2 separate regions of the Homo sapiens genome follow, and region 2 is linked to region 1. Evidence: fine-mapped QTL for protein levels in blood plasma. A gene starts in region 1. The other region holds a variant in brackets. All regions are shown on one strand. Distances are between the middles of the regions. Region 1 holds the start of RSPO3 (R-spondin 3). Region 2 overlaps LOC105377989 (a long non-coding RNA gene).

What was found. PIP is the chance, under the fine-mapping model, that this variant and not a neighbour inherited with it causes the effect. The UK Biobank Pharma Proteomics Project read protein levels with antibody pairs (Olink). The fine-mapping took linkage between variants from a reference panel, not from the people measured, so its PIPs are less certain.
Region 2: its variant is fine-mapped to the plasma level of the RSPO3 protein (UK Biobank, PIP 0.99).

What each region holds. Positions count from the first base shown.
Region 1 is chr6:127,116,989-127,119,820 of GRCh38, reverse strand. RSPO3 (R-spondin 3) reads right to left here and starts at 1,150. Exons shown (of 5, transcript NM_032784.5): 1 at 532-1,150. The coding sequence starts at 628. LOC105377989 (a long non-coding RNA gene) reads left to right here. Exons shown (of 14, transcript XR_002956387.2): 4 at 1-920.
Region 2 is chr6:127,016,333-127,019,246 of GRCh38, reverse strand. The region is part of intron 5 of LOC105377989 (a long non-coding RNA gene); the gene reads left to right. Among named protein-coding and RNA genes, the nearest start is that of RSPO3, 100 kb to the left of the region's middle. The variant A/G (reference allele first, on the strand shown) is at 1,635.

The DNA of each region.
Region 1 (2,832 bases):
CGCTCGCTCCCTGGCTTCCTGGCCGGGTAGCGGGCGTTCGGCTACCGGAGTCCAGCCTAAGGGCCCAGCCGAGGTCTCCCCGCGCGAGGCGGTTGCGCTAGGTGAGCGGGTACCGCGGCCGCGCCTCCCTTGTCATTTACTCAGCGGTCAGAGGCATCCTGCGTCTGGGAGTCCCAAGTGCCTTCGGCTGGGTGCCCCTGTCCGATCCTCAAAAGGAAAGCACAAATCCCGGGTGCGAGTCTAACCCAGGACCGAACTTTCCCGCGAACCTGAAGTTACCATGGGGCGGGAGCCACCTTAGCGCCGCGTCCGCCCGCCCCTCGCACCGGCTAGGATGCTGCGGAAGGCAGGGGCGCCGAGAGGCAAGGGTGAAAGACGCCGTCCATACCCCCAAAGCCCGAACCTGCATCTCCTCTGCGAGGCGCAGGGCGGGAGGACCGCTGCAGTTGGGAGCCGGCTCCGGACAGGCAAAGCGACCCGACAGGTGAACGCGGCGGGAGGGAGCAAACGCGTAAAAAACCCTGCACTTACTTCTTCGCTGGCGCCTTCCCCGGGAGGCGTTTTGGCTGCCGATGTATTCCATAAAGTTCAAAATGATAAAAAGCCAAGAAATCAGTCGCAAGTGCATAGTAACCCAGTAATGCTTCCCTTCCTTTCTCCTCTTTCTTTTGATTGTTAATTATATTTAATGTTTTTAAAATATATGTAGGTGTTAGGCGTATATAGACAGTGCCCGAGCAGCGGGACTTCTCCTCTCACATCCGATAGGCGTGCTGTGATGGCAAGCGAAGTGGGGCGGGTGGACAGGGAAACCAACTATTGTACTTTCAAATTATCCAAGCACTGAACTGCGGCGGCTTCGCTGGGGTGGCTGGCATCGCCGCGAACCGGGGTTCCAGGAGCCGCCGGGGCGGCCGCAGGTAGCATGTTGTGCGGCAACTGCCGCAGGCGGGATCCGGGCGGGCGAGCGGCGGCGGCGGCGGCTGCAGCGGCGGCCCCTTGGGCTCAGAAGCTGCGGCGGCTGCGGCTGCAGCGGCGGGGGCCCCTGGAGCGCAGGGGAGCGGGCGCCGTCGGCACAGCGGCCATGGCCAAGGGGCGGCGGAGAGACCCCGAGCTGCTTCTGGCGTGCGCGAGCAGGAGACGCTCCAGTGTTGGGCTGGGCTCCCGGGAGCACCACATAGGGGAGGAGGAGGAGGAGGGCAGGGAGGGGGGAGGGAGAGGAGGGCAGGGAGGGGGAGAGGAGGGGGGATGGCTGTGGGGGGCGGGGGGGAGCTCGGGGGCGGGGAAGGAAACTGCTGGAGCAACAACCCTGAGCGACCTCAATAACTTTCAATTTCAAGAGGGAAAGAGGGAGCTGGAAAAGTACAGGCGTTGCGCTTTGGCAGAGGGACGGGAAGAGGCGCCTAAGGGGTCCCGGGTCTACAGCGCAGCATCTCTGGACACTGCAGTGACGGCCGGAGAATTCCAGCCAGAAGAATGGGGAAAGCAGTGCGTGCGAAGAGCCCCTCCAGAAGGGCAGCTCTGGCGGGGAGACTTGGGCGCACTGGGGCTGGCAGGCAGTGTTGAGGCCGAAGACCCCCCACCCATCCCAGTTCGGCTCCTCTCCGCGGCCTCAAGCTAGGCGCACCCGGCTGTCGGTGGCCGTGCGCCCCTGCGCCCTTGTGCCCCAGCGCCCCCACCCCATCCCCAGCGCCGGCGCGCAACTACCCTCTCCCCCTTGGCAGATCGCTGGAGAGTTTCTGGCTGCTGACTTGTTCCCGGCTTTCCTGACCTTCTCCTCTGTTGCCTTTCTCCCTTTTTCTTTTTCTCTCTCTTTCTTTCTTTCTTTCTTTCTTTCTTTCTTTCTTTCTTTCTTTCTTTCTTTCTTTCTTTCTTTCTTTCTTTCTCTTTCTTTCTTTTCTTTCTTTCTTCCTTCCTCTTTCTTTGTCTTTCTTTCTTTCTTTCCTTCCTTCCTTCCTTCCTTCCTTCCTTCCTTCCTTCCTTCTTCTTTCTTTCTTTCTTTCCTTTCTTTCTTTCTTTTCGGCTGCAGTTGGTCGCCAGGCGGGTGGTGGGGAGGAAACTCTGTGGGTGCTGCCGGTCAGCTACTCTGAGGTTTACCTGCTCCGAGCGGGGAGGACCCAGAAGTGTGTGCGCTCAGGACCTTCCCGTTGGAAATGCAGCTGTGCTACGGCTTTCTTCCAAACCAAGGCTTTTCTGTGGCTTTGGAAGATTCCTTTCCCGCTCAGGCAATTCCCTCTATAGTCAGCTCGCCCCCCTTGGAGTTTTCTCTCCCACCCTCGGTCTCCCAGTGTTCTTGAGAGGATCTGTTGTACATTCTAATCTCGCATCTGGAAGACTGGGAATAAGATTTGGAAAGATTTTCCCAGTCTTGGGGAAGGAAGGGGAAGGTCCACTACTTTCTTATCTTCCCAGCCCAAGTGGAGGCCCAAGGCAGCAGAGAGTAAGATGCTCTGGCCCACCCAGGGATGGGAGAACAGAGGGCCGGCACCCCTGAGTGGGGCACACCCTGGCTGTCGTTAGTAAATGGTGAGCTTTCCACGTCTTTTCTCCGGTAGCACCAGCCGATGAACTTTTCAGTAATTACTGAAGAAGTATTTAGTCGAAAGTCACAAGCCTCAAGTGATTTTAACATAAGCCTGCCCTATGTATTATATTTAACAGAATATCTGAAGGACTACACTAGCACTACAGGTTAACACAGCAGCAAACTTCTGGGAGGTCACTTTGAAAGAGTCCCTGATTCATAGGTGCTTTGCTAATTTTTGTGCTCAAATAATTCAGTGTAAGTCAATTGCTAAAGCCTTGCAGAGTAGCAAGTGACACTTGCACTTC
Region 2 (2,914 bases), 100 kb after region 1:
ATGCACACAAAGAGTACCTATGTGCAATACATGTGAGTGAAGAAACCTTTTAAGAAGTTGCTCCCCAGCTGCCCTAGGAATCCAAGTTGATGTCAAAGATTAAAGATGAATCACCACGTTGAGCCCTTCTTGGACACCTTAGCTCCAAATCATAAGTCAAATAAAATGGTAGTTTTATGCTATTAAGTGGGTTTAGAGATTCATTTATTAATGCAGGAGTAAATTCCTGGCACATATATCATCTATTAATATTTGATGTATGAATGGTCAGAGAAAAAATACCCCAGATGTTAGTGAAGAAAACAAATGATCAGAGAGATAGGATTAAACTAGAAAACACATTGCCACTGAAGTCCAAGATATTATTGAAGGGGATGGTGGGAACAATATATTCAACAGAGAGAATAGTGATCCAACGAAAATGATTAATTTTGTTGAGGTCCATACTGATCTCATATAGGGCAATTTTTATGAGTGAAGAGTAAAACAAAAATGGAGCCAGAATAAGATTTGTTTTTGGCAAATTAATAATATATGATATTTTAAAATATTATGGTACTTTAGACTATTAACAACTATAAGCAAGTTCTTTTTTAAAGAAAAATAACTTACTGCTTATTTTACTAGCATAAGTTTATTTTGTAAAGGATATGATTTATAAATAAAATGTATATATCAATTTATTTGAGAAGTGATAAAATATGTGTATAAATTTATCTTATAAATTTAAATTTATAGAACTTACAAACCACACAAAAGCAATGAAGCTGTTTTAATGAAAATAAAAATTTGAAATATGACTTTACAAGTAATGGTTACTATCTAATGTCAAGTCTCAGCAGCCCATTGATTTGAATAATTTGTTTTGCATGCACAACATTGAGGTGCTCCGTGGTGCTCCCTTCATTCATCCACTGTTTCAAGAGTGAATATGCATACACCTAAAAAGAACAGTATAAAGTTATAAACTTCCTAGTGAATACCACATTTGTAAGAGTTTCAAAATATACATAGAGATGGCATAAGAAGCTTTATTCCAATATCCACTTAAAAAAAGTTAACCTAGGAGTCGAGATGAGCATCACAGTCTCTCCAGTGTGTTAAAATATACTGTATATTGTATCGTGTGTTTTTCTAGTTTTTAAAATAGTCTAAATATGTTTAGAAATTATGTTTCTATTAAACATTTGTGTGACTCTGGAAGCTTCTCTGTAGAACACTTGGAAAACTACTGGTTTAGATTAAACAAAAGGAAATCTTCAAGGAACTTTGTTTTCAGCACACTATTTTAGATACAAAGCAATTTCATCCATCTGAGTATACAAATTATATTCTCCATGCTCTAATCTGTTTTTATTTTATCTTTAATTGCAATTTTACCGGATTTCAAATAAAAGTGTTTTTTAAATTTTTTTAAATGAAACTTCTCATGAAAAGTAGGTAATTTATTTCTGGATTATCTGCTTTTTAGAACTTTTTGCCTTTTTGTATAAAGATCTTGATGACAGGCTGTATGGCTCACTAAATTCTGCCCAATACCATGCAAGGACAATGGGATAGTCTTTCAGTTTGCTTATATTATTAGCTATTATGTCAGTATTAAAGATATCAGAAAGCATTTTAGCCTCATAGAT[A/G]AGGCAGACAGCAACTAAATAAGTACTGTCACACCTGTTAGTCTCAATCAAGACTTTGGGTATCGTTAGCAAAGAAGCATGTTGGGGTGTGAGTAGAGGCTCAGCCGTGTCTACTTCAAGGTTGGAATTGCCCTAACCCTGCAAATAGCTTGTAATATGGACACCTCTGTTTTGGATACAAGAGGAAGAGAACTATTCTGATGTTACAGTTTATGAAATGTAACACCATTGTCTGGTTCTGTTATTAAGTGCAGTTGTTCACACCTAACCACATATTTATCATCTTGCATTGTTATCTCAAGATATTTATTCTCTAATGAATCTCTAATAGCTTTATGCAGGAGGTCTTGTCTCCCCTATTTAGCTGTAAGCTCTTTGAAGACAATGGGCAATGTCTCATAATTTTACTCACCACTGTGCAAAGTAGTTTGGGTCACACACTAGACATGCAATAAAGGTTGATTAACTAATTAATATAATACTTATGAACTTCCCATCTCATGTCAGTGGCTATGCTAGGTACTATATGCACAATAGTGAGTATGGTTCTGTTCCCTTAAAGAATTGCAAAAGCAAAAAGGCATGTATACACACACACACACACACACACACACACACACACACACTCATATATTGCTATATGATTTTCAGGATTATAATCACATTAGAACTCAGTTGAATCTCAAACTTGTTGTATTATCAATATTATCATAGATAAACCAGAGTTTTGCCATTCATTTACCAGAGACTTTTATTCTTAAGAAGGTTTTTATTTATTTTTATTATAATTTTAAAGTCTAGGCATAATAACTTAACAAGGAATAATAATTTAGAAATTAATAACCTAGTGTGAAAATTCTTTGTATTTCAGTTCTTCATTATATTTTCTGAATGATAAATCCTGTTAGAAGTTTTGTGTTTTCTAAGAAAAACATTTAGAAAATGGTTCATGTTGAGGATTTCTCTTCATTGTGTGTTATAAATGTAAAGAAACTTAAAGTAAATCTTACTGCCACTGAAGGATCCTCTTCCAAGCTGAAACTTACCTTAAAATCTGCGTGGTCTTGAATCTCTTGAACTCTGAGCCTGCCCTGAGTCCTTTATATCCTTCTTAACCAAAGCTCTGGCCCAGGGTTTCCTATTTGTCAGCATAGAACAAAGAACATTAGGAAAAACAAGATGGAAAATAAAGAAAGAGATAACTCAAACCTGGGAAGGATGGTAAAATACAGATGGAGTTGTGTGATGAACGTTGTATTTCATCCTTCCCTTCATTTCCC